6 linked regions of the Homo sapiens genome follow. The protein of the gene in region 1 purifies or fractionates together with the protein of each later gene. This does not show direct contact. Each region holds a gene or a part of one and is shown in the gene's direction. Other genes may lie near its edges.

Region 1 (5,362 bases):
CCAGTGCTTTTTATAATAGGAGAAGTATGAGGTCATTTAATTTATCGTACAGTGTATTAATCTGATAACCACTCCTGCCCCCTACACTCTGTAATAGGGGAATAGAGTTCAGATAGGTTCTTGAATGGGAATGAGTTGAGAATGGTGGGGGATAGCCTTTTCTTGGCTAAATAAATTGGTTAGTTACACCTTTTTCTAGCACATTAGATGTTTACTTGACTTACATTCTACATAGCTAAAAGGAACTACCCAGGGGTTTCTTCTAGAACAGCATCTATGCTTCAAGGTAACAGACTGTGGAAGAGGCTTGGGATTCAGCAGTACTCCCTCTAGGGTCTTTTTTCTTTGCTGAATGAAATGAATCTTTTTGTAGGACAAAAGATTTGCTTTGCAAATTCCCTTTGAAAACTAGCATGATGGCCTGGTTGATAAAGAATGAGCTTCATTCCCCCTCAGTCTATGACTCTCCTCCCATAAGCAGTGGGGTTTTATTTTCCCTGGGGACCTGCTTTTTGGATATGTGATCCCTTAAGAAGAATGACCTCGTCAGATAGAGCCTGGACTTAGCAGTCCCTGGTGACTTTCTCCGATGTTAACATTTACTCGCCCTGTGACTATGTATGGAAAGCATTATTGCTTTCTCTTGTTGTAGATTTTCTAACCATGGCCAGAGGTAACTCTTCTTATGATTAAACAGCCCTTTAATAATCTGAAATATATGTGAACTTACCAAATTTTGTATGTAATTTCATAGAGTTTGTAAACCATCTGACTCCATTTATAATTCAGAGCTGTCTGGCCTTTAAGTTAGACAGTATTTCCCTAGGGAGCTGAATAACCTCTCCTAGAGATGTTATAAGTGCTGATGAGAATTAGTTTTTGAAATGCTCAAATAAAAAGCATAATTTTCCATTGTTATTAATGATGGATAATAGCAAAATATCTGCTAATAATAGTAGAGTTCTTACTTAAGCATCATGCTTTTCTAAGTATTTACATAACTGATCTGAAGCAGACCTTCTGATTTTTCTACTAATAGAAATTTCCCTTTCTGAATCAAGCAGAAATAGGTCTCCCTTACATCAAAGTTTGTGTTACCTTGAAATAGATTGGAAAGAATACATTTTTGTAAAAGTCATTTTTTTCTTGGATTTGTTTCCAGTTGGAGAAACCCTAAAGTCAGGGCACTTGCCAATTATCACAGGACTGTGAGAGTCCCTTTTTTGCTCAAGATTGTGGCTGGCTGCTTGTACATCTTTGACATTATCACACATCAAGCATATTAGAAAAAGGGGTGACTTGGGAGAGTGAGGGGATCAGCACTTTAGGCCTTGTCAACCCTCCTGCTTATCTGCTTGGCAGCTTCTGGCATCTCCTTTTCCCTAAGTCCTTGAACCTCTTTCCTAAGCGTAAACCTTTCTGTTTTTAGTCCTAAACCTCTCTTTTCACAGTATTCCTGTCAAATGAGTACTTAAACACATGTTTCATCTGTGATTTGTTTTGTTAATTGCTTTGTGGATTATTTGTGGCAGAATTTAAATCCTAATTCCTTTCTACAATTTAGCCAGTAAATTCAAGGAATGTACCTTTTTACGTTTGCAGCATGTGCCGAAGCGCCACCTCAGAAGATAAAAAGAAATGAGTCTCATATTTGGCATTCTTTTAGGTTTGTTACCTACCTTATTCATTAATGTAAATAATTGAATTACCTGTATTTTACCATTCGTAAACCAGGTTAATAGATATATATTAATAGCAGGCTTTCTGTGTGTGTCTTTTCCCTCCTTTCTTTCTATTTATTTATTTATTTATTTTTTGAGACCAAGTCTTGCCTTGTTGCCCAGGCTAGAATGCAGTGGTGCAATCTTAGCTCACTGCAAACTCTGCCTCCTGGGTTCAAGCGATCTCCTGCCTCAGCTGGGATTACAGGTGCCCGCCACCACGCCCAGCTAATTTTTGTATTTTAGTAGAGACGGGGTTTCATCATGTGGGCCAGGCTGGTCTTAAACTCCAGACCTCAAGTGATCCATCCGCCTCGGCCTCCCAAAGTGTTGGGATTACAGGCGTGAGCCACTGTGCCTTGCCCCTTGCTTTCTTTTGGGAATTCTCTTGTACCACAAGTTGAAAGTTATATTAGTTTGAGGCTTTCTATGTTTGGACTAGGATGACTGCCAGTGAGCCAGGGGAACCCATGAATCTGCTAGGCTGTTATATCACATTCACAACTACTTGCAAACCAGTTTTGAAGTGAAGGCTGCCAAAAATAATGACATATGGTCCCTGCTCTATAGAAAATGAGCATATGACCCTTAATAAAAAACAGGTAGTTTTTTTATATACAGAAAATTACCCTAAATGTGATTATGTTTCTTTATTTTTTGACCGTAGAACAGGAATCTTAATCTTTTTTGTGTTATGGACTCCTTTGGCAGTGTGGTGAAAGCTTTTAGAGTTCCTTTTTGGAATATGTTTTTATATGCAAAAATAAAATACATAGAACTATAAAGAAAACCAGTTATATTGAATTATATTGATATATAGTTATCAAAATTTAAGAAGTATGATATGGTATGAAAATATCCATGATTTCTACTGGTAACAAATCCATTTGTCTAATAAGTCTGCTATTACTGCTGTAGCTTATGTTCATCACTGAAGTGAAAATAAAGATACAGTCTTTTTCATCCAAATTCACAGACTTCCTGAATTCTATCATAGACCCTGCCTCAGAGATATGAGTTCCATAACCCACTCTAGGAAGATCACATTCTAAACACAAGAGTTTACTCACCAAATATTCTGGTAGAATAGTGGCAGAGTAAAATTGTTCAACTGTAAGAACTATTACATGTGTCCCTCATGGTTTTTTCTTTCCTGAAATATTCTACTACATGTCCAGGCCGAAGAAGTATAAGCTTTATTATGTGTGCCAGTGGCTAACCCAGGGTCTGGCACAGAGTAAGTGCCGCTCAGTGTTTGTTGAATAAGGGTTTCTCTGACGAAATTAGAGGGAAGAGATCCAGTTCAAAGCTAAGGTCTTAAATGTGACAGTTTATAGGGCTCATGACAAGTAACGTTGAACTTTAGTTTAGAACTAATCTGTCAGAGAAGCTCATGTTTTGAAATTCACTTTTACATTTATAAGTTCTCAGCCTGGTGTGATAGTTCATACCTATAATCCCAGCACTTTGGGAGGCTGAGGTGGGAGGATTGCTTGAGGCCAGGAGTTTGAGACCAACCTGGGCAGCAAAGTGAGACCCCCATCTCTACAAAAAATTAGCTGGGTGTAGTGGCATGTGCCTGTAGTCCTAGCTACTTGGGAGGGTGAGGCAGGAGGATCACTTAAGCCCAGCAGTTCGAGGCTGCAGTGAGCCATGATTGCACCACTGTACTCGAAATAATTCTATTTCTAACACTGTTTTTCACTTTAGATTGGGTAAATTTAGGTAGAATTTGCCACCAAATTATTAATAAAGCTGGTCCTGATTTCATCTAGGATGAGAGGTAGCAAACTTTTTCAGTAACGGGCCAGATTGTAAATAGTTTAGGGTTTGCAGGTCACACAGTATCTGTGACTACTCAGCTCTGCTGTTGTAGCACAAAAGCAGCCATGGACAATAAACACATCAGTGAGTGAACATGGCTGTGTTCTGATCGAATTTTAATTACAAAAACAGGTAGTGGGCCATCTTTGGCCAGCTAGCTGTAGTTTGCTGACCCCTGATCTAGATTTTCTGGTTCTTGAGTCCAGCTCTTTTCCCTACTTTCGCTTAGCCATATACTCCTTCAAGCTTCAAAGGCCTTTACATAGGGGGCAATGTCCTTACACTGTTATCTCCAGAAAGACCTGAGTGTACAGCAAGATGATAGGATTAATGAATGCCAGGAATATTAGATGCACTTTAACCCTTGAGTTTCCAGAGCTTGCCTCTTAGAGCACCAGCTCATTAAGCACCACCACGGTAGAAGCAGAGAAACATCCCAAATGTAAAGTCTGCTTGCGCACTCGGCTTTGGAACTGGGCATTGATATGCTGATAGAAAAATACTGGGCATTGGGTTTTAGTGGGGAAGATAATGTAGGCCTAGAGATGGGGAAGGCAGGAATAGAGTGCAAAGGAAAAATTATGCCTCATCTTTTTGCAAATAGTTCCTTGTAGTAATTGGTCAAGTTTGAGTTAGATTTTTGAAATGTGGAATAGCATATGTAATTGCAACTTGCTACTACAAGAGCTCACCCTTAGTCGCAGTTTTACTTTCCGTGGTTTCAGTTACCCACAGTCAGCCACGGTCAGAAAATAGGTGAGTATGATGTAGTAAGATATTTTGAGAGTGAGAGAGAACAGCCACATTCAGATAACATTTATTACAGTATATTGTTATAATTGTTTTATTATTAGTTATTCCTGTTAATCTCTTACTGTGCTTAATTTATAAATAAAACTTTATCATAGCTCTGTGTATATAGGGAGAAAACAAAGTAGAGTCAGCCCTTCGTGGCCATGGGCTCCACATCCGCAGATTCAGCCAAACTTGGATCGAAAATATTCAGAAAAAAAAAAAAAAAAAAACAATAAAAATACCAATACAACAATAAAAAACAGTACAAATAAAAAACCAATATTGTATAATAACTGGTTACATAGTATTTACATTGTATTAGGTGTTGTAAGTAATGTAGAGAAGATTGAAAGTATATAGGGGGTATAGATTATATGCAAATTCGACACCGTTTTATATATATAAGGGACTTTTGAGCATCTGTGGATTTTGGCATCTGCAGGAGATCCTGGAACCAGTGCCCTGCAGATTCTGAGGGACAACTGTCCATATAGGGTCCATACTCTCTAGGGGTTCAGGCATCTGCTGGCGTCTTGAAACATTTCCCCTGTGGATAAGAGAGGACTCTGCTATATTTAGATTGTTACATAGTTCAGGAAGCAAAGTCCAACTCCTCTTTCCCTTGGTAGGTCTGTTTGCAATAAGGAAGTTGAATAGAAAGGATTGGATAGGCCGGGTGCGGTGGCTCACGCCTGTAATCCCAGCACTTTGGGAGACTGAGGCGGGCAGATCACCTGAGGTCAGGAGTTCAAGACCAGCCTCAACATGGAGAAACCCCATCTCTACTAAAAATACAAAATTAGCCAGGCGTGGTGGTGCATGCCTGTAATCCCAGCTACTCGGGAGGCTGAGGCAGGAGAATTGCTTGAACCCGGGAGGTGGAGGTTGTGGTGAGCTGAGATCGTGCCATTGTACTCCAGCCTGGGCAACAGGAGTGAAACTCTGTCTCAAAAAAAAAAAAAAAAAAAAAAAAAGAAAGGACTGGATAGGAGTCCCTAAAACTACTTGTAGGAGCCTATCAT
Region 2 (4,965 bases), on another chromosome or scaffold:
ACATCCTTTCTGAAAATCCACAGGCACGTTGAAGTGTGTGAATATGGACTCCTTGAACACAGTGAGTCTCTGAAACTCATGGTCTTTCATCTGCAAAATCCCCTACAACTTCCAACTTCTCAGACTTTTTTTTGAGACAGGGTTTCTCACTCTGTTGCCCAGGCCACTGTGCGATCACAGCTCATTGCATCCTTGACCTTCCGGGCTCAGGCAATCCTCCTGCCCCAGCCTCACAAGTAGCTGGGACCACAGGCGCATGCCACACTGCCTGGCTAATTTTTTCTTTTTTTGTGACAGAGTCTCACTCTGTCACCGAGGCTGGAGTGCAATGGTGCGATCTTGGCTCACTGCAACCTCTGCCTCCTGGGTTCAAGTGGTTCTCTTACCTCAGCCTCATGAGTAGCTGGGATTACAGGCAACCGCCACCATGCCTGGATAATTTTTGTATTTTTAGTAGAGACGGGGTTTCACTATGTTGGCCAGGCTGGTTTCGAACTCCTGATCTCAGGTGATCCACCTGCCTCGGCCTCTCAAAGTGCTGGAATTACAGGCGTGAGCCACCGCGCCTGGCCTAATTTTTAAGTTACTTGTAGAGATGTGGTCTCTCTGTGTTTCCCAAGCTGGTCTCAAACTCTAGGCCTCAAGTGATCCTCCTGCATTGGCCTTCCAAAGTGTTGGGATTACAGTCATGAGCCACTGTGCCCAGCCAGACGTTTCCTTTTTCATCTTTTTTACTGGAAACTTCAGGTTCTCTCCTGAAGGGACAGCATTCCTTATATCCTTGTCAAGCAGTGATTGTGGTTTTTTTTTTTTTTTTCCTAAATTCAACTTCCTCTGGGCCTGGAAATGGAGGAAGTGACCTCTCTGCTTTCCATTATCTCTAGATTTTAGTTTCTTCTTCTTTCTAAGACTTCCCAGCGCCTTGGAAGATCATCTGCCACCTGCCATTCTTCTTATTGCGCTCCTTACAGCTCTTCAGCTCCTGGCTCACTGTTTTCTTCTCATCACTGCTTCTGTTGTTATTCTCAGTGGCTTCAGCATCCGCACAGACAATTCATCCAACATCTGGGCCTTTCAATTTTCTCAACTCCTCATTTCCAAAAAGATTTGTCTTCTTACATCTCAGCATCCCACTCCTCTGTTCATGCTTTAGACTGTGTCATTAACAAAATAACGCACAACTTCCAAAATCTTGATTTCAAGTTTCCCTTTATCTGCTGACCTCCTCCTGTCATTCCAGTTCTGTTCCCCTCTCTAGCTTCTCCACTTCAGCACTTCCCTGACTCCTCAGGTACCTTCAGTCTCTCGACCCTCTCACTTTTGCATCTTCCATCAACATCCCTCGGGTCCTCATTGCCCTTCCTCCTCACCTCAGGTTCTAAGGCTTCTAATTGTAATCACTGCCTTAACCCCGTTGATTCTGTCTCTCTCTGTTCTCAACCCAGTTAATCCACCATTTCACCTATAGTAACTTGCCAGTTAAATCCACTGTTCTGCACCTGCACTTGGATAGCTGAATCTGGCTGGAGAAAAATGCATAGCTTTGTTGACTTGTCTCACTTTAAATCTATAACCACAGACCCCAAAAGGGACCCTTGGCAATACCTGGCGGTTCTGTGTTTCCCTGGTTGATTCATTTACCAGTTCTTTCAGATAATTATTTCACAATTTGTCTTCTCTCCTCAAAGCTCAGTACATCTTTCCACGTTCTCCCTTTTCCTGAGAAGTTTACTCACTGAGAAGTTCAGGACTTCGAGACCAGCCTGGCCAACATAGTGAAACCCCATCTCTACTAAAAATATATTTAAAAAATTAGCTGGGCATGGTTGTGTGCGCCTGTAATCCCAGCTACTTGGGAGGCTGAAGCAGGAAAATTGCTTGAACCCAGGAGGCAGAGGTTGCAGGGAGCTGAGATTGCACCACTGCACTCCAGCCTGGGCAACAGAGGGAGACTGTCTCAAAGGAAAAAAAAAAAAAAGGAAACGAAAATAGGAGCAATCAGGAAACTTGTATGTGCTCCCTCCCCGAAATCAGCAGTCTTCTGTTATGCAAATGATACGTCACTGCCCCTAAGGCCAACCCTTCACTGGTGCCCTGGATCCCATCCCCTCTCACCCACTGCACTCCAGTCTGGGTGACCGACAGAGCGAGACTCCGTCTCAAAAAAAAAGACTTTCCTCTTGAAATTACTCCTCTCTTTCTTGTGTCCTCAAATTTTCCTTCTCCACTGTATCGTTCTTACCAGCTTACAACTGATACCTCTTTTTTTTTTTTTGAGACAGAGTCTCACTTTGTTGCCCAGGCTAGAGTGCAATGGCGTGATTACAGTTCACTGCAGCCTCTACCTCCTACGCTCAAGTGATCCTTCCACCTCAGCCTTCTGAGTAGCTGGGACTACAGGCATGTGCCACCATGTCTGGCTAATTTTTTAATTTTTTTGTAGAGACAGGGCCTCTGTACGTGTGCGTGCATGTAATTAGGTAAGCAAAGATACTGTGTGCCAGTGGGAGTATGGGCTTGTATCAGATGATGCTGTTGGGTTCTTGTGTATGTTCTGTGCTTTTCTGGTCTAATTTCCCCAAGACAGGACTGGACCCAGAGCTGGCTTCCAGGAGATTCACAGACCATCACAGCTGGAAGGAGGCCAAGAGAAAACACAGTCCCCATTCCTCACTTCACATATATGGAAACTGAGGCCTAATTTTTAAATGTTTTTGTAGAGGCAGGGCCTCATTATATTGCCCATGCTGGTCTTGAACTCCTAGGCTTAAGTGATCCTCCTGCCCTGGCCTCCCAAAGTGTTGGGATTACAGGCATGAGCCACTATGCCCAGCCCAATCCTTTATTGATGGAAATTTTTCTTATGTCCATTTCTTCCTTCTTGCAAATATCTGTTTGTATACCTACATACTGGTGGAAAAATAACAACATAAGGTAAATGTTTGGCAGTAGAAATATTAGGTTAAGTGGCATGTTCATTTTTAATTTGTTTTTGAGAAAGGATCTTGCTCTTTCACCCAGGCTGGAGTGCAGTGGCATGATCTCGGGTCACTGCAACCTCTGCCTCCCAGGTTCAAGCGATTTTCCTGGCTCAGCCTCCCTGAGTAGCTGGGACTACAGGCTTGTGCCACCACGCCTGGCTAATTTTTGTATTTTTAGTAGAGACGAGGTTTCGCCATGTTGGCCAGGCTGGTCTCGCACTCCTGACTTCAGATGATCTGCCTGCCTCGGCCTCCCAAAGTGCTGGGATTACAGGGGTGAGCCACCGAGACCAGCTTTCATTTTTAATTTTTGTGATTACCAATTTGCCTCCTAAAAAAGTTGTACCAGTTTATATGGCTACCCACACTTCATGCGATGCCTGTGTACTTGTCCAAACTGGGTGTTATTGAGCTTTTACTTTTTGCTAATCTATGATGTGAAAATGATATCTTTTTCTGATTTACGCTTATATAATTCTGAGTGAAATGGAACTTCAATTTTTTTTTTTTTTAATTTTTTTGAGACGAGGTCTCACTCTGTCACCCAGGCTGGGCTGGAGTGCAGTGGTGTGATCTCGGCTCACTGCAACCTCCACCTCTTGGGTTCGAGCGATTCTTGAACCGTGCATCACCATGCCTGGCTGATTTTTGCATTTTTAGTAGAGATGGGGTTTCTTTCTTTCTTTCTTTCTTTTTTTTTTTGAGCAGCAGCAAGATTTATTGCAAAGAGCGAAAGAACAAAGCTTCCACAGTGTGAGAGACCCGAGCGGGTTGCCCGAGATGGGGTTTCATCACGTTGGCCAGGCTGGTCTTGAACGCCTGACCTCGAGTTATCCACCCGCCTTGGCCTCCCAAAGTTCTGGGATTACAGGCATGAGCCACCATGCCCAGCCAGTAACATTTTATAATGTTAAAAAGAATCCTGTAGGCCGGGCGTGGTGGCTCATGCCTGTAATCCCAGACCTTTTGGAGGCTGAGGTGGGTGGATCACCTGAGGTCAGGAGTTTGAGACTAGCCTGGCAAACATGGTGAAACCCCATCTCTACTAAAAATAGAAAAATTAGCAAGGCGTGGTGGTGGGTGCCTATAATCCCAGCTCCTCGGGAGGCTGAGGCAGGAGAATTGCTTGAACCCAGAAGGTGGGGGTTGCAGTGAGCTGAGATCATACTACTGCACGCCAGCCTGGGCGACAGAGTAAGACTCCATCTCAAAAAAAAAAAAAAATCCTGTAGATAGTTTAATTGGGATCATATAAAAGATATATTTTAGGGAAAATCAACATTTTTAGCTGATTGAGCCTTTCTCTTTAAGAAAAATATATGTTTATTCCATTTTCTATTTATTCAAGGTTTTTTTTAATATCCCTGTGGTATAATATGAAATATATAGTTGTCATTTTGTATCCATGGGAATTGTTCCCAGAACCCCCTTGGATGCCAAAATCCTTGGATGCTCAATTACCTTTTTTTGTCCTTTTCTTGTAGAGATGGGTGTCTCACAATGTTGCCCTGGCTGGTCTTGAACTCCTGGGCTCAAGCGATCCTCTCACCTTGGCCTCCCCAAAGTGCTGAGATTGCAGGTGTGAGCCACCATGCCTGGCCTCAAATCCCTTATATAAAATCAGATAGTACTTGCATATAACCTATGCACATCCTCCTGTATACTTTAAATTACAAGTAACTCTAGGTTACTTGTAATACATAATGCAGTGCCTACTCATCACTTCATTCACATGGATTCAACTTAGTACTTAGCATGGGGCAAAATTTAAGTTTTGCTTTTTGGAACTTTGTGGATTTTTTTCTTCAAATATTTTTGGTTCTAGGTTGGTTGAATCCAGGGCTGTGGAACCCACTGATACTGGTATGGTATTTGGTATTTGGCCTTTGTTTTGTTTCTGTCACAGCTCTTTTTTTTTTTTTTTTTAGATAGTCTCACTCTGTCACCCAGGCTGGAGGGCAGTGGCTTGATCTCGGCTCACTAC
Region 3 (5,362 bases), on another chromosome or scaffold:
ACTCCAGATAATTGGCACCTACGCCCAGACGGAAATGGGCCACGGTTAGTCCACATTGAGGGTCTGTGGGTAACCCACCTCAGGACATCAGTTAACAGTGATTGCTGGCATTTGACTTTTTTCTGCTGCTACCTGTTTGGGATTCTATTTTTAAGTTGTTAAGTCAAAATTCAACTTCTTGTTTTCTCCTAGACATTTTCCCTGGAAACTGGTCCAGGGCTCTGGCCTATAAACGTCATTCACTGTTATTTCCTAAAGCCTTTTATTATTGAACAGCTTGAAAAGATGGGGTTTACAGTGCAGCGGGGAACCCCATTATGTTACTCTGGGTCTAATGAGTAAAGACTTTGTTGGAAATTCTTCAGAGGGTTAGTGCCTCAGCAATATCTGGAAAGCGCCTCTCTGCTCTAATGCAGTTAAAGCTGTGGATTTTAATGGGGGCAGCAGGCAGTGGCAGCTACCTGTCTCATCTCATTGCCCACTAGCAGGGTTATAAGGCAGTTTGGAAAAAAGTCCATGATTCTCTTCATCTGACTTCAGTCTTTTTAGACATTTTTTCCCCTACATGTCTGGGAACTCTTGTGTTGCCAGTAATTCTTTGTTAAATTGTTCCTAAATATCTGGCTTCCTTCAAAAAGTTTTGCTTTTGATCTTAATGTGAAATAGGTTTGTTTTCATAGACAAGGCCATTGGCAGGTTTGAGTGTTTGGAATTTGAACTGCCCAGCCTCATGTCTAATTATCAAAATGGCAGGAGTAAAGAAAGGGAAAGAAAAAGGGATGCAGATATCAGGGAAACATCATTTTGTGTTTGATTGCTGATTTCAGTGTGTGAATTGGTTTAAGGAAAATGTTATTTATTGTCATCTCCATGGGTACTGCAGCTTTCTGGTCATGGTTTGATGTTCCAGACACTTTACTAAACACTCAAGACTTCAACTTCAAGATGGTCAGTACTGAAATTATAAGCCTGAAAGAAAGGTTTGTAAAGGAAGATAAGATTCTTTTTTTTTTTTTTTTTTTTGAGACAGAGTTTTGCTTTTTTTGCCCAGGCTGGAGTGCAATGGCATGATCTCAGCTCACTGCAACCTCCGCCTCTGGGTTCAAGTGACTCTCCTGCCCGAGCCTCCCGAGTAGCTGGAATTACAGGTGCTCACCACCACGCCCGGCTGATTTTGTATTTTTAGTAGAGACGTGGTTTCTCCATGTTGGCCAGGCTGGTCTTTAACTCCTGACCTCAGGTGATCTGTCCACCTTGGCTTCCCAAAGTGCTGGGATTACAGGCTACAGGCGTGAGCCACCGCGCCTGGCTGACAGATCCTTCCTTTTTTTTTTTTTTTTTGGAGACAGAGTCTCACTCTGTCGCCCAGGCTGGAGTGCAGTTGTGCCATCTCGGCTCGGTGCAAGCTCCGCCTCCTGGGTTCACGCCATTCTCCTGCCTCAGCTCCTCAGTAGCTGGGACTACAGGTGCCCGCCACCACGCCCGGCTAATTTTTTGTATTTTAGTAGAGACGGGGTTTCACCGTGTAAGCCAGGATGGTCTTGATCTCCTGACCTCGTGATCTGCCCTCCCAAAGTCCTGGGATTACAAGGCATGAGCCACTGCACCCGGCCTGAGAGATAAGATTCTTTATGTAGTCCTCCTCGCTTGGAGTATCTGTGTGTTTGTGTACATGCATGCGTGGTGTGTGTGTGTGTTGTAATTTTGAAGTAGCTTTGTGGTACAGAACTCTGTTTCAGTATTCATCATTATAGAATTTATTCGACTTAACAGTCATGCTGTTCATAGGAGGCATAAGATGTGAAATAGTCTGAGGCTAATGGATTTGTTAAGTATACCTCTTACCTCTTGTTGGTCTAATGCTTCTGCCTCATTTATAAAGTAATATCACAAATATATATTTGCCCTAATTTTTTTTTTTTTTTTTGAGTCAGAGTCTCATCCTGTGCCCCAGGCTGAAGTGCAGTGGAGTGATCTCAGCTCACTGCAACCTCCACCTCCTGGGTTCAAGGGATTCTCCTGCCTCAGCCTCCTGAGTAGCTGGGATTACAGGCACCTGCCACCATGCCCGGCTAATTTTGTTATTTTTAGTAGAGATGGGGTTTGGCCATTTTGGCCAGGCTGGTCTCAAACTCCTTACCTCAGGTGATCCACCTGTCTCAGCCTCCCAAAGTGCTGGGATTACAGGTGTGAGTCACCACGCCCGGCCTGCCCTAATTTTTGAAAGGAGAGAGGAAGAAAGGAAGACTTGAACTATACTGGTTTGAGGCAAACAGAAGTTGGACAGAGATCCTATATGGCTGTGGGCAAGTTTGCATTTGTTAGAGTTTTCGTTCCCTTATTGCTTTTAGTTTTGGGTATTTTTTTTTTTTTTTTTGAGACAGAGTTTTGCTCTTGTTGCCCAGGCTGGAGTGCAATGGCGCGATCTCGGCTCCCCGCAACCTCCGCCTCCCAGGTTCAAGTGATTCTCCTGCCTCTCCCTCCCTAGTAGCTGGGATTAGAGGCGTGTGCCACCATGCCCGGCTAATTTTGTATTTTCAGTAGAGACGGGGTTTCTCCATGTTGGTCAGGCTGGTCTCGAACTCCCGACCTTAGGTGATCTGCCCGCCTCGGCCTCCCAAAGTGCTGGGATTATAGGCGTGAGCCATCATGCCCAGCTAGTTTTGGGTATTTTCTTGTATTTAAACCAACGTTGTCTTAATCTCTGTGGTTTAGAGAACAGTGTCCTAAGATTAGTCTTTTTTCTTGCTGGAATTTTGCTAATTCATATTGCTGTTCTTGGTTGATGACTGATCTTTTCCTTGGAAATAAGTCAGGTTGGTTAATTTGCATCACGTGACGGTTTTATCTTATATGGAATACACAAAAAGTCAACGTCCAGGAGATCGGCAATAGAGCAGCTTATATAGAATGAGATCTAACTATTTAAATTCTGAGACTTTGGAAAATGGATCAACAGTGAACAGTGATTATCTAACGCGGTCTCACAGAAGTAGCTGTAACTTTGGGTTTGGGATTCTTTCACTTCTGGGTAGCTGCTGAGAAGTGAAGGGGCTCAGAAGTATTCAGGTTCACTCCATGTTCCTTCCAAATCCTAAAATTCAGTCACCTACAGAAAGTCTCAGTCACCAGCATTATCCTTCTTTCTAGAGTGTGTCTTCTTTCCTCTAAGGACACGAAGAAACTCGGATATACACCTGCCCTGTGGGTCTGGGAGCCATAATCAAAGGCAGAGGCCTGAACCTGGGTGATAGGCTCACCTCCCTGGAGTTCTGGGATCAAAGGAACAGCCTGGGGAACTGGGTCCATGTTATCATCCTGACCATATGTTTCTTTAGGCCACAAAACAGGTCGTTTGTTTGCTCTTCACAGATATGTAATCATTTCAAGATGTGGCCATTTCTGGAGATTCTTCTTGCTTTGTTTTCCTTGTTTGCTTGCTTGCTCACTTCCTTCCTTCCTTCCTCTTTTTTTTTTTTTTTTTGAAGGAGTCTCATGTTGCCCAAGCTGGAGTGGTGCAATGGTACAATCTCGGCTCACTGCAACCTCCACCTCCCCCTGGTTGAAGTGATTCTCCTGCCTCAGCCTCCTGAGTAGCTGGGATCACAGGTGTGCACCACCATACCTGGCTAATATTTATATTTTTAGTAGAGACAGGGTTTCACCATGTTGGCCAGGCTGGTCTTGAACTCCTGACCTCAGGCGATCTGCCCACCTCGGCCTCCCAAAGTGCTGGGATTAGAAGTGTAAGCCACTGCACCCGGCCTCTTTCTCGCTCTCTTTCTGTCTTCTTCCCTTCCTCCATTCCTTTCGTTCCTTTCTTTCTTTATTCCTCACCCATGGACTGGGGTCACATTGCCTTGTTTCGTATTACCATCTATTTAGGAATATAGAGATTGTATGATACATAGTTATCCTTGAAGCTGATGCAGTATCCTGGCAAATTGCCATCATTAACACTTAAATATGAAATAATGCACCTTTCTTTGAAACTGGAAAGAGGTAGTAAACTTGATTTTTAAGTCATCAGTCTTTACCGCACTCCGTTGCCCTCTCTCCCTAGGCTTAACAGTCTCCTCTTCCCTCTGCCCAAGTGATTCTCTTCCCTGTTGGACTTCTCATGAGACTTGCTTCCCTGGGGATTTGGGCTAAATTTCACCAATATTAGTGATAATAATATAAACTTTATGAAAGCTGTGTTCTGGCCAGGCACGGTGGCTCACGCCTGTAATCCCAGCACTTTGGGAGGCCAGCGTGGGTGGATCACCTGAGGTCGGGAGTTCGAGACCAGCCTGACCAACATGGAGAAACCCCGTCCGTACTAAAAATACAAAATTACCTGGGTGTGATGGTGCGTGCCTGTAATCCCAGCTACTAGGGAGGCTGAGGCAGGAGAAGCTTTTGAACCTGGGAGGTGGAAGTTGTGGTGAGCTGAGATTGCGCCATTGCGCTCTAGCCTGGGTAACAACAGTGAGACTCCGTCTCAAAAAATAAATAAATAAATAAATAAATAAGACGCTGTATTCTTTGGGGTCATACTTCTGGAATACCTCTCAGAAATGAATTACTATATTGAGGGACATGAGCATTTTAGAGCTTTTGCTGCATAGTTTGAGGCTTTTCCTGAAACACAGAACCAGTTGACAATATATTGAGCAAGCTCTGTACCTGTATTTCCACAGCTCCATCAACGTGGTCACTTTAATTTATTTTGCTACTTTAACATATTTCTTTTTTTTTTTTTTTGAGACGGAGTTTTGCTCTTGTTGCTCAGGCTGGAGTGCAGTGGCGTGATCTCGGCTCACCGCAACTTCCGCCTCCCGCATTCAAGCGATTCTCCTCCCTCGGCCTCCTGAGTAGCTGGGATTACAGGCATGCGCCACCACGCCCGGCTACTTTTGTATTTTTAGTAGAGACGGGGTTTCTCCATGTTGGTCAGGCTGGTCTTGAACTCCTGACCTCAGGTGATCCGCCCGCTTCAGCCTCCCAAAGTGCTGGGATTACAGGCATGAGCCACTGCACATGGCCTACTTTAATATATTTCTTTTTTTTTTTTTTTTTTTCAGGCGGAGTCTCGCTTTGTCGCCCAGGCTGGAGTGCAGTGGCATGATCTCCGCTCGCTGCAAGCTCCGCCTCCTGGGTTCACGCTATTCTCCTGCCTCAGCCCCCTGAGTAGCTGGTACTACTGGCACCCTCCACCATGCCCGGCTAACTTTTTTTTTTTTTTTTTTTTGAGACGGAGTCTCGCTCTGTCGCCCAGGCTGGAGTGCAGTGGCGGGATCTCGGCTCACTGCAAGCTCCACCTCCCGGGTTCACGCCATTCTCCTGCCTCAGCCTCCCAAGTAGCTGGGACTACAGGCGC
Region 4 (5,362 bases), about 52 Mb from region 1:
TAGCCAAGGATCTTGTGAGGCAATAGTGTGCAAAACGATGTTCCAGACTTTGTTTCAGGAGTTTCTTTTCAAACAACAGTTTAAGGAACCACCTACTTCTCCTTTACTGGCTGTTTCTTTAGTAACTGTCTTCCTAGATTTCGGCTTCAGAACACATTAGAGATGGTTCTTAGTAGAGCAGTTTTTAATCTAATAAATTTTGTAAGTTTTTGAACTTTTTGTGGCTTTTCATCTGAGAGTCCATTGACACTTTTGATTGCTCTTCAAGATAATCAAACAAAAATAATAAAACAATTTTGGATACCTCAAGTCCAAAAAGGGGGTGGGGACTTTTATTTTAGAAAGACCCTAGAAACAGACAATCGCCCTTAAGAAAGCATCACTTCAGAATCAGTAGAGCAAAGTCATTTGACATCCTGGACTAGTTTCTGGACATATCCATATCTTTTGACCATTTTGAATTTTGTCCTTTGTATACTTTTGTCTAGTCTTTGAACTATTCTTTATATTTCCATTGCATAGGTTAGCACATATTCTCACACATGTTGGGAAATAGAAAGCTTGTTTTTATAGGTCTTCTGGACATGGGTGTCCAGCTTCTCAGGGGATTGTCAGACTGGTTTTTATTCTGTTTTTTTGGTTTGTGGGCTCTGGCTTACTTCCTATTTTTCTGTCATTGCTGCTGACTCTTCACAGAATGCTATTTTTTTCTTTCTTCAGCTTTCACTCATTACCCATATGTTAAATTATGGCCTTATAATTTAAATCCTGCATTTTTCTAATACATTTGATGAACTTTAGTAAATGGTTGTAACATGACTGAAAATTATTAGTGTAAGGTGAGGTTAGTATAAGGTGATAGGAAGTTGTCTGTGAAATTCTTGAGAGCTCTTTGAATTTATAACCAAAAGAACTGAATTTGTCTGTTCATTTTACAATCTGTTACAAGGCATTTGGATTGAAAGGATGGAAAGATGGCCGTAGGAAACAAGTAGCTTACTATGTAGGAGGTAGGTACACAAATAACTAATTATTATACAATCCATTTAATAAGCCCTGTACAAAAGGTATCTATATCTATCTATCTATCTATATATATATATCTATATCTATATATATATATATATCTATATATATATATATATATCTATATATAGATATATATATATCTATATATATATATATATATACTGTCACATGACTCAGGGAGGGACATCTCATTGTATATTGATAGGAATGGTACCAGGGAAAGTTTCAGAGATTTTGCCAATAGATGGGGGTGGAGAGTGGGAGGAAGGGTGGAGGGGGCAGTATTGATAGAGCATCCATTTCACATTCTGTATTACCACAAAGTTGTTGGATGGTATTGAGCAAGTCACTTAATGTTTCCGATTCTAAGTTTTTTTAATCAGTAAAATGGGGTTGTTAATACTTACCTAACAGGATTGTTTTAAAGATTAAAGAAGAAAGGATTATTCAAGTAATATCTGTTAAATGTTTTCAGTTGTAAAGCTTTTTACAGTGTATTATTTCTTTGAAAATCAGCTTATTCCATTTTTAGACAGCTATAGTAGTTAAAAGTTCTTTAGTACATTATGCTGATGTCTGTCTTAGAAATGTAAAAATCCTACTTTTCTTATTGCAGACATTCAAATGTCACTGTCCTTACATATACGTAAATCATATGTACCTATTCAGGCTATAGTTTTTTAAAAATAGTAGTTTAAAAGGGGATTAGGGATTTGTCTCATATGAAGTGTAATGAATAGAATGAATATGGTAGGAAAGACGGTTTAGATAAGGATTAAGAAGTAAAAGGCAAATAGTTTCTTTTTTTCTCTGTAAATCATTATTATAGTTTAGTAATTCTATTTAGTACATTGGTAAATGGTAGTACAAAAAAACAGGTTAAGTCTAGACCTTAGACTCTGAGACAGAATCTTAAAAGATTTGTAATCTGAAGTAAGTATGATGCTTCAGTGTCTTCGTATTTTTTCTTTCTAATGCTTTTTTGGGGGTTAACTCTGAAATGAAAAGATCTGACAGTAATTATGTGGAATTGGTCAATAGTGCCAGGAACTGATCTGTATATACCCCTGGGACACAGTAAGGGTCAGTTGAGACTAGTAAACTTATGCATATTTAAAACTTGTGAACAAGTGAAGTGTTTTTTGTTTTGTGTTTTTTTTTGGTGGGGGCAGCATTTCTTAAGCAATTTATTCTAAAAGATAATCTATTTCTATTAAATTTAGTTTTTAAAATGTGTTTTGACATCAGTTTCCAATTTTAGATACAGCTGTTGGACATGATATTCAGTAAAATAACACAACCTTACTATTTTCAAGGCATTGTTTAATATTGTTGGAATTTGAGGTGGGTGGAAAATGGCATTCAGAAAATTATTTCATGAAATAAATGGGACATATGCTAGGACTTAAAAATCTTGAAATTGTTAAGCTTCTACAGTATTTGCAATGGATTTTGGCTGCTATTTAGCAGTATAAATTAAGAAGCTAAGATCTTAGAGAAATTTTAGCAAAAATTCAGTAACCATTAAATCATCCCCGTAATTTTACTATATCTCCCCTCCAGACAGTTCACCAAACTGTGAACACATTAGTCTGTCACCAGTACAGTTGACTAATCTTTATGAACAGCTGTTATAACATGCGTTACTACAATGGGATTTCATTCAAATTTGGGCTTTAAAAAATAATTTTAAAACTTAAGTTAGCTCTTTCTTTCTTTTCTTTCTTATGTGTCTGTCTGTCTTTATTTTGATGGAGTCTCTGTCATCCAGGCCGGAGTGCAGTGGCGTGATCTCAGTTCACTGTAACCTCTGCCTCCCGGGTTCAAGCAATTCTCCTGCCTCAGCCTCCCGAGTAGCTGGGATTACAGGTGCTCACCACCACGCCTGGCTAATTTTTGTGTTTTTAGTAGAGACGAGTTTCACCATGTTGGCCAGGCTGGTCTCAAACTCCTGACCTTAGGTGATCTGCCCACTTAGGCCTCCCAAAGTGCTGGGATTATAGGTGTGAAGCCACCGCGCCTGGCCCCTTTAAGCATTTTCTATGCTTTTGATGACATATACTTTCTAAGAGTGTTTTCAAGCTTAAACTTTTTTTTTTTTTGTAGAAATGCCAGTTATGTAGAAAATCGATATTCACATTTTAGATTGTATGTTTTATTAATAGTTTTTTTGAAGTTAGTTTGTTTATACTAAGAACTTTCAAGTTTAACAAAAATCAGTCTTGCATGGTAACACATCTCTTGGTCTGTACTTATTTTCTCTCTTAAGGCAAACTGCAAAGCTATGTTCCTTTTAATGGAATATTATGAGGTAATGAAGTATTATAAAATATTTTATATTGTATAAAAGGAATTTTGATCTTTTAAATTTAGTATACAATATTTTTGGTCATGTAGGAGAAAAAAGAATACAAGCACTTTTAAGTAGACTCTATTTTAATCTATTAGTCTCATGTCATTTATTTTTTGTAAGTAAATAAACAATACCAAAATGTATTCTTTTATGTATCTTTACTCATATATTCCATGTCCACCCTTTTCATGACTGTGTTATGGCATGATAGAATGAAATGGCCTTATTAACCTGGCAGGATGGTGGATATTGATCAAAGGGTTATCGTGATATTTTAAAGGCTTGTTTTTTAGAATAAGGTAAATATACCATAGCATACTGTTTGATTTCAGTATGTAAGATAATCCTGAACATCAAGATTTTGACATGTATTTGTTTTTGCATGGCATACATATAGATGATGCTATAAAGACTGAGTTGAAGATTTCTGTTTGATTCTATAAGTCCCAACATGATCTGGTCCTTGCTTCACTCTCCAGATTCCCTTACCGCAAGTCATTTCCCCATTCATTTCACTGCAGCTGCTTTGGTCTTTTATTCATTTCTGAGAAGATACTTTCAGGCTTTTCATGTGCCTGAACTGCCCCATCTCCAGTCTGCTTAATATTAAACTCATCCTTTAGGTCTCAGCCTGGGTGGAGATCACTTAGGTTAAATAATCAATCTTAACATTATTTTTCCAGCATAATGTTGGCTTCTGGAATGCTCTTATGTAATATATAAACCGTTACCTTTATAAAATCTGAAAAATTCTTAAACAGATGATAAATAAGCAAAAACAAAAACAGAAACAAAAACAAAACAAAAAATAAACCCAAAAAAACCACCCCAAACTAATAAAGTTTAACTTCAACAAAAGGATATTGGCTTGAGGGAGGTTGTGTTAATCTATCTTTTGAATTCATTTTGACTGTTGTAAAGATAATTATAGCTTGGCCTAAATTTGCTTCTTACTACCTGTGTGACTTTAGGTAAATCGTTTAACACTGTACTAATAAGATTGAACTGGATTTACAATTGAGGTACAGTTAAACTCTAAATTTCTTGGATTTTACATTTCCTTTATTGATCACATAAAATATTTGATTTTGATCTAGGTAGATTATTAGGTTATTTCAGCATTTGGAATTTGTTTTGTGCTTATCAGTAATAAAAAACAAGTTAAAATACTGTGTTTTTGTGTGTACACGTTTCCAATTTTTAAGTTTCTTGCATTTTTAGTGCTTGTGGATGCTCTCTACGTTTCTTATAGCATCAGTGCTTTTAAGAGTTTAGTGACTAGTCTATATATTTCATTATGAATTAGAAATTACTAGAGGTCAGTAAAGATGTTTCTCTAATTTAGTGGTTCTTCACTCTATTTGGAAGGGGGTTCATTATTTGTAGATGCCGTTTTAGTAGGTGTTTAGGAGGTGCATGAAGATAAGCATATCTTTTGATGAATGTCTGGAATTGTTACTTAAAATTTTTAAATAGAGAAAGCCCATCAGACTAACAGCAGATCTCTCTGCAGAAACCCTGTAAGCCAGAAGAGAGTGGGGACCAATATTCAACATTCTTAAAGGAAAGAATTTTCAACCTAGAATTTCATATCCAGCCAAATTAAGCTTCATAAGCGAAGGAGAAATAAAATCCTTTCCAGACAAGCAAATGCTGAGAGATTTTGTCACCACCAGGCCTGCCTTACAAGACCTCCTGAAGGAAGCCCTGAATATGGAAAGGAAAAAACAGTACAAGCCATTGCAAAAACATACCAATTGTAAAGATGATTGACACTATGAAGAAACAGCATCAACTAATGAGCAAAATAACCAGCTAGCATCATAATGACAGGATCAAATTCACACATAACAATATTAACCTTAAATGTAAATTGGCTAAATGTCCCAATTAAAAGACACAGACTGGCAAATTGGATAGTTAGAACCCACCAGTGTGCTGTATTCAGGAGACCCATCTCACATGCAAAGACACACATGA
Region 5 (5,362 bases), on another chromosome or scaffold:
GCTTTTAAGGAAAAAATTACTTAGTTTTTCTAGTCAAATCTCAATACTTGTAGGATAAAGTCCAAGTCTCTTAGCTAGTACTGATAGAATTCATTATTCATACAATAAGTATTTTAAGACATTCCTGGCCGGGCATGGTGGCTCATGCCTGTAATCCCAGCACTTAGAGAGGCTGAGGCAGGCAGATCACTTGAGCTCAGGAGTTCAAGAGGAGCTGGGGCAGCATGGCGAAACCTTGTCTCTACTAAAAATACAAAAGCTAGCTGGGCATGGTGATGTGCACCTGTAGTCCCAGCTAGTCAGGAGGCTGAGATGGGAGGATTGCTTGAGTCCTGGAGGACAGAACTGCAGTGAGCTGTGATTACACCACTGCATTCCAGCCTGGGTGACAGAGTTGAGACCCTGTCTCAAAAAAAAAAAAAAAAAGACATTTCTTCTTTTACTGTAAAAACTATATTTTAAATAGTTTTCACTATAATAGTAATACCTTATAGTAGAATAAAAAATAAAAATCACCTGTAAACTTAACACCAGGAAATAACTGCTGTTAATTTTTTGACATATTTCCTTTTTTTTTCTTTTTTTGAGACGGAGTCTCGCTCTGTCGCCCAGGCTGGAGTGCAGTGGCGCGATCTCGGCTCACTGCAAGCTCTGCCTCCCAGGTTTACGCCATTCTCCTGCCTCAGCCTCCCAAGTAGCTGGGACTACAGGTGCCCGCCACCACGCCCGGCTAATTTTTTGTATTTTTAGTAGTGGCGGGGTTTCACTGTGTTAGCCAGGATGGTCTCGATCTCCTGACCTCATGATCCGCCCGCCTCGGCCTCCCAAAGTGCTGGGATTACAGGCATGAGCCACCACGCCCGGCCGACATATTTCCTTCTAACGTGTGTTAAAAACTTTTTTGGATCAAATATTAATATTTCTTTTTCTTTTTCTTTTCTTTTTTATTTTGAGACAGAGTCTCACTCTGTTGCCCAGGCTGGGGTGCAGTGGTGCAGTCTTGGCTCACTGCAACCTCTGCCACCTGGGTTCAACCAATTCTCCTGCATCAGCCTCCTGAGTAGCTGGGATTACAGGTGCCTGCCACCGCGCCTGGCTAATTTTTGTTGTATTTTCAGTAGAGACGGGGTTTCACCATCTTGGACAAACTGGTCTTGAACTCCTGACCTCGTGATCCACCCGCCTCAGCTCCCAAAGTGCTGGGATTACACGCGTGAGCCGCTGTGCCTGGCCTTTGTATATTTTCTTTTGATTGACATGATTTTTATTGGGTGCATATTAGTCCTCTGAGTGGATTAATTTACAAGTATTTCCTGCAGTTGGGCATTAAGGTAACTTCCAGTTTTTTTAGCTTCGTAAATATAGTATACATTTCATGCAAATTTTTGCTTGCCTGTGGATATATTAAATTTTTCCTCTTTGGTAAACATGTAAACTTGTTTCTAGAGCACTGATTTTCAAACCTAGTAATTGTCATTTGACTGACCTCCCCCATGAATTAGTGTATGAATTGATACTGCATTTAATTTTAAAGAGGAATTAGTAAGAAGCCTCAGATGAATCATAGATTTATTATTACTATCTTAAAACATAATTATTAGTTCATATTAGTTCATAATGTCACTGAAGGAAAAAATCTGTTGCCTTTCCATACAGTTTGACTAGAATTAACTCTAGTACTCTAGCAGTACTTCCAGGTGTTTAGAGAGCAATGTTGCTGTTAGATTGCATCATACTTAGCTTATATAAGAAGTCAACTTAGAGTAAGAATAATTCTTCTGAAAATGTCTTTGACTGAGACTTGACAGTTTTCATTTACTGATGTTGAGCATGTTGCTACTCAAAATTCAGTTCTCTTTTTAATAGGCCTTCTTGACCATTGGATTTAAAGATTGGTGACTAGTTTTAAGACCTGTCACTTATACTTAAAGTTGACATATTTACTTGCAATTTCTTGTCAGCTGTCCATTAAAACTTGTTTTAGTTTCATGAACCAAGTTACCAAATAATATTTTCTTTTTTTGTTGGGGGCTGGGGGGGTAAATCGGAATTCCTAATATATTTAAAGGAAAAGTTTATTTAAATAGGTCAGTTATTGTGGGTAGGAGAGAGATGATTGGTTTCATAATTTTATTTATTTATTTATTTTTGAGATGGAATCTCACTCTGTCGCCCAGGCTGGCGTGCAGTGGCGCGATGTCCGCTCACTGCAACGTCCGCTTCTATGTGATTTTTGTGCCTCAGCCTCCTGCGTAGCTGGGATTACAGATGTGTGCCACCACACCGGGCTAATTTTTTTTGTATTTGTGCTGGGCTGGTCTTGAACTCCCAACCTCAGGGTTAGGAATTCAAAGGGCTGGAATTACAGGCATGAGCCACTGCACCCAGCCCATAATTATCTTTAATAGTATCATTTTAGTCTGTCAGTTTTTATTTGTGCCCCAAATTTGTTTTATTCGTTTTATTAGAGATTCATCAATTCTTAATTTACATTTTATAGAAGGCAGAATGCTTTTGTTGGGTAAGCAATAGATATAAATGAATCAAAACCTAAGAATTCTTGAATGAAAGAAGATTATTTCTCTTACCCCATATCCATAAATTAAGCTAGCAATACTAAATGTACTGAGTCCTCTCTGGTCAAATTGTTAAAATATAAAAAATACCTTTTTAAAGAAATTACATAATAATAGGAAAAAAGGTGTGCTGTTGTATTTAGAAGCTTTCTCCCTACTTCCTAGGTTTATTTCCAAAGTTGAAGAAGTCTTGAATGACTGGAAACTGATTGGAAACTCTTTGGGAAAGCCACTCGAAAAGGTCAGATCTATTTGCTGGTGTCTCTAAATGACTATTTACTTTGAAACCTCTATTTTCCAGCCCTTTGCTGCATTTGGCACATTTGAATTAAATGTTTTTTAAAGTTACGTATAATCTATAAACATCAAATAGCATTTGGAAGAATTTGGATTTAAATCTGTGGCAAATGATATATGTAAGACATTTGTGAAATGTTTAATAAAGTTATATATATGTGTGTGTGTATATATATATATATAAAATGTCATTCTTTGTGAGTGATTCTTTGTGAGTGAAGTTTGCTTCTCTTTTGCCTTCTCCCTTGGAATGTTAAAACATGTTTTTAAAAGTTTTTTATTTGGTCAGAGAAACATTGCAGTGACCATCTTCTTTGGTAGCATATTTTGCTTACTAATGAGGAAAATTCTAGTACTTACCATTGACTTACTGTAGTTAACAACTATTTCACTCAGTTTTTGTATTTTATAATATCACTAATAACATCCCCCTTCCCTTTTAAGCTTTTTAACTTATGGATGTTTTAAGGATTTTATTTAAGAATGAAAAAATTACTCTTTGAAATTGAGGTAGAAATCAAATTCTAATCTAAAGTATTGGTAGTTTTATTCATAAACCACACCCCAAATGTTTACTGAAGAATGTACTCTGAGAACAAACCTGGATTCACTGTGAAGGGATCTAACAATTTGATTTTAAGTTTATGTAGATGCTTAGTTTGTTAGATAAATTCTTTTGAAATAAAATTTATGGTTGGTTTTATTACAACTCAATATTACTAACTCAGTGATAACTTATTAACTCAGTAATTATTAATTCAATAGTAATTTAATTATAATTTACCCTGTGTTAGGAACTTTGAGTTCTCAATATTTGCTAGGGGTTTTCAGCTTTGTGATGGTGATACTATCAAAAAAGAGACTGTCAAAATGCATTAGGAAGCCAGGCAACATGGTGAGACCCTGTCTCTTAAGGAAAAAAAATCTCCTTATTTGTATCAATATGAACAGAAAAAGTAAGACCACATATAAAAAATACATCATTCAAAGACTCTTGGCAATATATACATTGATTTACTACACTACATGTGTGAATAAAGAAAATGTGACGCTTTCAAACACGGGTCATTCTACTCCACTTGAAACAAATACATAACAATTGATATAGATGCCAATAAGATTAGAGGCAAAATAAGCTGGATATAGCTAGAATAGGAAATGATTTACACTACTAAGAAGAGAGCTAAACCGGGTACTTATGAGCTCTGATATTCTTTCATTCTTTGATTTACATGTATTTACTGAGTACCTGCTATGTGCCTGATGTGAAGAAATTGTGAACAAGATAAGATCAGTGTTGCCATTGAACATAAATTCTAGTGAGGGTGATCAGTAAAGAAACATTAAAATTTTATTTTATTATTATTTTTTAAATTGATATATGATAGATGTACATATTTTGGGGTACATGTGATAATTTGATACATGCATATAATCAAATCAGGGTACTTGGGAACCCTTAAATATTTATCTTTATGCTAAGAACATGCAAGTTACTCTCTTTTAGCTATTTTGAAATGTACAGTCAATTAGTGTTAACTAAAGTCACTCTAAGGGTTAAAGTTTTAGATGCTAAATTCAGTTTTGGGATTTAAGTGGGTAGTTATTTAAAGTAGGTAGCATACTGCCAGGCATGTAGTAGAGGCTAATGAAGTCATAGCTCCAGTCTGTTTCTCCCTACTAGATAGTAGTACATAAATAAGATACAGAAAATATGGGCAGATTTCAAGGTGAGCTGTAACTATGATGAATATGAAGAAAGTGTAGAGGACAGGGATTGTTTGGTGTAGAAAACAAAGTTTAGAGACTTCCTTTGAAGATTTTAACTTATATGAAGGACAGTGATTATTAATTTTCTCCTCCACTGAGGGGGAATTAAGGGAAATTATTTATTAAAAACCTTTAATTATGGAAAATTTCAAACATATATGAAGTAAACAGAATAGTATAATGAACTCCCATGTACCCATCACTTAATGTCAACAATTAATACTTTGCCATTTCTTGTTTGAGTGGTACCTCTGTTTACTCCCCTACCTCCACTAGATTTTTTTAATAGTTTTTTTTTGGGTAAGATTTATATACATTGTAATGGACAAAACTTAACTGCTTGATTTTTTTTTTTTTTTTTTTTTGAGACCGAGTCTCGCTCTGTTGCCCAGGCTGAAGTGCAGTGACATGATCTCAGCTCACCGCAACCTCCACCTCCCGGGTTCAAGAGATTCTCCTGCCTCAGCCTCCCAAGTGGCTGCGACTACAGGCACCCGCCACCACACCTGGCTAATTTTTTGTATTTTTTAGTAGAGACGGGGTTTCACTGTGTTAGCCAGGATGGTCTCGATCTCCTGACCTTGTGATCTGCCCGCCTCGGCCTCCCAAAGTGCTGGGATTACAGGTGTGAGCCACCGCGCCTGGCCAACTGCTTGATTTTGACAAATGTTCACATGGGTATAACTTACACTCCTGTCAAGATAGAGGTCATCTCTGTT
Region 6 (5,362 bases), on another chromosome or scaffold:
ATTTCCTCAACCTCATCTCCAGTCTGTGTCTTAGATCCTTTTTTTGCTGTGGTGTTTTTAATATCTGAGAGCTTTTCCTATTTTCTGAAATTTTTAAAGATGGTTTTCTATTCCTGGATGTGATGTTTTAGTTCTTTGAGGATGTTAAAGATTTAAAAAAATAATTCTCATGCTTCCCACATTAGTTATTGTTTTGCTCAGAGTTCCATTTTTTTCTATTTATTTAGTGTTTTTGTCTTTCATGTCTTTCAAATACCTGTTTCTTGGCTGAGTTCTCATATTCAAGCTGTTTTGAAGTTTGTGTGCAGGAATGGTTTGTATCTTGGGATTCTTTCTTTGTTTTCTTTTTTCTTTTTTCTTCTTTGAGACAAGGTCTCGCTTTGTTTCCCAGGCTGGAGTGCAGTGGCACAATCTCGGCTCACTGCAACCTCCGCCTCCTGGGTTCCAGTGATTCTCCTGCCTCAGACTCCCAAGTAGCTGGGATTACAGGCATGTGCCACCATGCCTGGCTAATTTTTATATTTTTAGTAGAGATTGGGTTTCACCATTTGGCCAGGATGGTTTCGAACTCCTGACCTCAGGTGATCCACCGGCCTCGGCCTCCCAAAGTGCTGGGATTGCAGGTGTGAGCCACCGTGCCTGGCTTTGGGATTCTTTCTGTTGTATAAGTTGGTTTCCTTAAAGAACAAACCTCTAATTTTGGTCCCAATGTGTATAGTAAGTCTGGCCATGATCCAAGGGTGAGAAGAGTGATGTCAGGATTTCACATTTTGTTATGTAGACTTTACTTAATGCTCCTAGTCTTTGTGAGTATAGGGCTTCACCCCTGCCCACAGCTGTGTCTATTGTCTATAGAGTCTTCAGGTTCATCCTTATCATGGAATAAACTTTGTCTTCAAGGTAAGGGAGAATCTGGTGGTCTTAGCTAGTTCTCGTACAGGCATTCAAGCAGTTCTCCTTTTTTTCAGTTATATACCTGCTCAAGCCTTCAGAGGTTTTGAGCCTTTTGAGATTTTGCTGCACAAAATACCTTGCTTCTTACTGACTTAAGGGAGTTAGCAGCTTTCTTTGTCCTGTAAAATTGGTTATCACTTGCTAGTCAGCTGTCATCTCCCCAAATTTTATTGACATCTCTATGTCTTTTTTCCCATTCTCTTTGTCCCTGTGGTTTTATGCATTTTAACTTTCTTTATTCGAACCTGACTTGGATTTTGGGAAGGAGCAGAGGCAAAGGGGTAAGGGTTTAGACAGAAGTTTCTAATCTGCTTTTCACAACTAAATCACAGAGAGGTTAAATGGTTATGGCCTCTCTTGACACAGCCATATGTGTAAACATTGTTTATTGGAAAGTTGGGCTGAAAATAGTTATTCTGTGAACAACTTAACAAATCAGAAAGTAGGTCTGAAAAGAATTTAATAAGGCAATGTTCATTTTCTACTGTTTTATCATATTTTCGTGGTTTTATTTTGTGAGTTTAAAATATGCAATTGTGTGAATTTGCATGTATTTTTGTTTTCCATTGGAGAAAAAGTATATGGATCTAAATCTTTTAAATCTTTTTTTAGGACTTTAAACAATAGTAGGCTGGGCATGATGGCTTATGCCTGTAATCCCAGCATGCTGGGAGGTGAGGTGGGCAGATCGCTTGAGCCCAGGAGTTGACAACCAGCCTGGGCAACATGGCAAAAACCCATCTTAACAAAAAATACAAAAATTAGTCAGGCGTGGTGGTGTGTTCCTGTAGTCCCAGCTACCCTGGAGGCTGAGTTGGAAGGATTGCTTGAGCCCAGGAGGTCAAGGCTGCAATGAGCTGTGATCACGCCACTGCATTCCAAACTGGGTGACAGAGCAAGACCTTGTCTCAAAAACCAACCAGCCAAACAAAAAACAGTAAATAATGAATCCAACCACTCACTACTTATAGATAATTCTTGCTCTATTCGATTGACTGTATTTTAACTCAAATTTGAATTGAAGGTCATTTTTCTCATTTTATATTAAGATTGCCGATTTCTAATTAGAGATCTTAAAACCTTTAGAAAGTAAAAGTTCCAGTGTTGCTACTTAAAAATTCTTGTTCTATTTTTATTGACTAATCTTTTACTTGAACTTCAGTTGGAAGGATCCTGTAATCTAAATGGAGCGCAGAATGAAGATAACAGTAGGTTACTTCACAGAGAATTGACTGGGTGTTATTTCTTAGGACCCAGGTTTCTTCATCAAACTAGATAAGGAGGTATTTAGTTTTCTTATGAGAATAGAATATTGGGAAAACTTAGGAATGTCAAAATATTGAAATAGTATTTAATTCAAAGAGGATCTTAAAGTTAATGCCTCCTAATTATCATATTTGATTTTAACACTTTTGGCTTTTTTTTCTTGTAAGCATCTTTAAAGACATTTTAGAGATCTTTGCATAATCTCTTTTCTGTCCTTTAAAAAATAGGCTGCCATTTGTCGATGTAGTCAGCCACTCTCTGGATTCAGTGCCAGGTGCCTGGAGGATGAACATTTGCTTCAAGCCATTAGTAAAGCCAATCCAGTCAATCGCTATATGTACGTCATGGATACCAGGCCAAAAGTATGTATTTTAAATACAGTACAGTCTGCTAGTTTAATTATTTTTATTACTTTACTTAATGAGAGTTAATAAACTTGCCCATATTTAAAATATCTGAATCCTAGTTTTAAATTAACTAAGGCTAATGATACTAAGGAAATCAATCCTTTATTTAAAGGATACCAATTTAGAAAACCAATTTCTGAGTAACTCATGGTGATTTCTTACATCTTCTGATATATATAAATTCAGGAAAGCTGAATTGTATATTGAGAACTCTTGCTAGTATATAAGTCTTATGTTATTGTGAAGAAATAATAAAATGTGTGTTATGAAAAATAAATTGTTACTATTCTTTTTTTTTTTTTTTTTTTTTTTTTTTTTTAAGACAGAGTTGCACTCTGTCACCCTGGAGTGCAGTGGTGTGATCTCGGCTCACTGCAACCTCTGCCTCCCAGTTCAAGCAATTCTCCTGCTTCAGCCTCCTGAGTAGCTGGTATTACAGGCACGTACCACCATGCCTGGCTAATTTTTTGTATTTTTAGTAGAGATGGGGTTTCACCATGTTGACCAGGCTGGTCTCGAACTCCTGGCCTCAAGTGATCCGCCCACCTCAGTTGGCCTCCCAAAGTGTTGAGATTACAGGCATGAGCCACTGCGCCCAGCCTAAATTCTTATTATTCTTTTTTGAAGAATTTTCAATTGACAAAACATTTTTATGCTAAAATAATGGATTTTAGCTTGAAATTTTCAAGAAAATAAGGAAAACAGTTAACTTAGGAAACATTGAACTAGAGAATTTTAAATAGTGAACAGGAATTTGGGTTATCTTAGGCATCTTGTGTGCTATGGGGCCAAATTTTTATCATTGGGACAAATTTCAGAGTCCCTTCTTCTTTTTATTAACATAGTTAAACAACCAGTTCATATAGGATCCTGAAACTAAAATAATTAAAATCCTCAGTGGTAATAGCTAACGTTACTTTTAATTTTTGTTATAGCGTCGCATGCAGAGCTGGTGGGCTACACAAAAGGACATTGGCAGAATTATAGTGAGGATTTCTTCAAAAATCCAGAATGATGAGAAAATAAGAGAAAGCAATGAGAAAAAGCGAGTGAGCAATATAGAACGCAAGTGGTTTTTAGGCAGCTTTGTGAAAGGAATGGTCACTATTTTAGAAGTGATTCTCATCATTATGCAATTTCACAAAAGATAATTTAGAAACCAGAAGAAGAGATTAATTTGAGTAAATTGTACTTTGGGAGGCCACGGCGGGTGGATCACCTGAGGTCAGGAGTTTGAGACCAGTCTGACCAACATGGAGAAACTCTGTCTGTACTAAAAATACATAATTAGCCGGGCATGGTGGTGAATGCCTGTAATCCCAGCTACTCGGGAGGCTGAGGCAGGAGAATCACTTGAACCTGGGAGGCGGAGGTTGTGGTGAGCCGAGATCACGCCATGGCACTCCAGCCTGGGCAACAAGAGCGAAACTCCGTCTCAAAAAAAAAAAAAAGAATTATCTGGCTGGACATGGTGGCTCACACCTGTAATCCCAGCACTTTGGAAGGCTAAGGTGGGTAGATCACCTGAGGTCAGGAGTTTGAGACCAGCCTGGCCAACATGGCAAAACCCCGTCTCTACTAAAAATACAAAAAATTAGCTGGGTGCGATGGCAGGCGCCTGTAATCCCAGCTACTTGGGAGGCTGAGGCAGGAGAATTGCTTGAACCCAGGAGGCAGAGGTTGCAGTGAGCCGAGATTGTGCCATTGCACTCCAGACTGGGTGACAAAAAAAAAATTAATAATTATTTAAAAATAGAAATTGATAACTTGATAATCTTTTATTAAAAATAAAAGACTTTATTAGGAGTTGAGAGTGTTGGTGATATCTCATAAGAAAAATTCTGGAACACTTTTTTGATAATATTAGATATAAAAGGCGATTGTAATATGAGACTTTTTGAAGATGAGGTCTGATACAGTGATTTGTTTTTCAGGACCTCATAGTTCTTATTTGTATAATTATCTTCTTCACAGAAAATATATCATTCTTTGATTGTTTTACTAGTTAAATGTAACTCAAGTAGTAATAATGTGGAAGCATTTTTTAACATCTAACTGTAGATTTTACTTTAGGTACCGAATAACTAGTGAGTCAGTAGGATACAATTTAACTGTACTTGTTACCAAACTGAGGTCCAATCCACAAAATGAAGAGCTCCTTTTCTTCTAATTTAGGCTTCGTTTTATCCACGTTCATAAGAATTTTTAATAAATTGTGTTAACATACTATATGAAATCCTAGCCTGGAAGAATTAAGCATGACAAATCCTAAGGGACCACTGACAACATTTTGATCTAATAGCTAAAGACCATGGGCATATGAGCAATCTGTTTTTTCCTGGAGACCAGTTTATTTTTGGCCCAATTCTCAGAGATGTATCAGGATAGCCGATTATATGCCATATTATATGATGTATGGGCCTCCAATAATCTCTCATATAATCTCCCTCAAGTAATCTGAAGCATATTTCAGATCTGATTTTCAGGTCCCTATGGCTCTCAGAATGATCAATGCCCTAGGCTTGTTCTGAAGTAAACTCATAGGTTCATTCTGTAAAAGGAAAGTCCCCCAGCCAGCTCTGCTCAACTGAATCATTTAGAAATTAGATAGGAGACATTTCTTTCTTTTTAATTTTAAAATATTACAAACATATGGAAACTGCCTAAAATATAAATGAATTGGTTTCATGAACTTATGGGAACTTTGACCTTTCCATTATATAGCAATCGTATTA

The links.
Region 2: the proteins of PCYT1A (region 1) and S100A13 fractionate together in Homo sapiens (co-fractionation; one large-scale study listed by BioGRID). This does not show direct contact.
Region 3: the proteins of PCYT1A (region 1) and ACOX1 purify together in Homo sapiens (affinity purification with mass spectrometry; one large-scale study listed by BioGRID and IntAct). This does not show direct contact.
Region 4: the proteins of PCYT1A (region 1) and DIPK2A purify together in Homo sapiens (co-immunoprecipitation; one study listed by IntAct). This does not show direct contact.
Region 5: the proteins of PCYT1A (region 1) and RAB3GAP1 purify together in Homo sapiens (affinity purification with mass spectrometry; one large-scale study listed by BioGRID and IntAct). This does not show direct contact.
Region 6: the proteins of PCYT1A (region 1) and MTMR6 purify together in Homo sapiens (affinity purification with mass spectrometry; one large-scale study listed by BioGRID and IntAct). This does not show direct contact.

The regions. Positions count from the first base shown.
Region 1 is NC_000003.12:196,279,779-196,285,140, reverse strand, and holds part of PCYT1A (choline-phosphate cytidylyltransferase A), read left to right. Parts: intron 1-1,602; exon of another isoform or gene 1,603-1,666; intron 1,667-5,362. UniProt on the Homo sapiens protein: Catalyzes the key rate-limiting step in the CDP-choline pathway for phosphatidylcholine biosynthesis.
Region 2 is NC_000001.11:153,620,400-153,625,364, reverse strand, and holds part of S100A13 (protein S100-A13), read left to right. Parts: intron 1-4,965. UniProt on the Homo sapiens protein: Plays a role in the export of proteins that lack a signal peptide and are secreted by an alternative pathway. Binds two calcium ions per subunit. Binds one copper ion. Binding of one copper ion does not interfere with calcium binding.
Region 3 is NC_000017.11:75,968,307-75,973,668, reverse strand, and holds part of ACOX1 (peroxisomal acyl-coenzyme A oxidase 1), read left to right. Parts: coding exon of another isoform or gene 1-44; intron 45-5,362. UniProt on the Homo sapiens protein: Involved in the initial and rate-limiting step of peroxisomal beta-oxidation of straight-chain saturated and unsaturated very-long-chain fatty acids.
Region 4 is NC_000003.12:143,977,513-143,982,874, forward strand, and holds part of DIPK2A (divergent protein kinase domain 2A isoform a precursor), read left to right. Parts: intron 1-5,362. UniProt on the Homo sapiens protein: May play a role in cardiomyocyte proliferation through paracrine signaling and activation of the PPI3K-AKT-CDK7 signaling cascade.
Region 5 is NC_000002.12:135,055,270-135,060,631, forward strand, and holds part of RAB3GAP1 (rab3 GTPase-activating protein catalytic subunit), read left to right. Parts: intron 1-2,741; coding exon 2,742-2,817; intron 2,818-5,362. UniProt on the Homo sapiens protein: Catalytic subunit of the Rab3 GTPase-activating (Rab3GAP) complex composed of RAB3GAP1 and RAB3GAP2, which has GTPase-activating protein (GAP) activity towards various Rab3 subfamily members (RAB3A, RAB3B, RAB3C and RAB3D), RAB5A and RAB43, and guanine nucleotide exchange factor (GEF) activity towards RAB18.
Region 6 is NC_000013.11:25,258,888-25,264,249, reverse strand, and holds part of MTMR6 (phosphatidylinositol-3,5-bisphosphate 3-phosphatase MTMR6), read left to right. Parts: intron 1-2,041; exon of another isoform or gene 2,042-2,237; intron 2,238-2,447; coding exon 2,448-2,582; intron 2,583-3,562; coding exon of another isoform or gene 3,563-3,676; intron 3,677-5,362. UniProt on the Homo sapiens protein: Lipid phosphatase that specifically dephosphorylates the D-3 position of phosphatidylinositol 3-phosphate and phosphatidylinositol 3,5-bisphosphate, generating phosphatidylinositol and phosphatidylinositol 5-phosphate.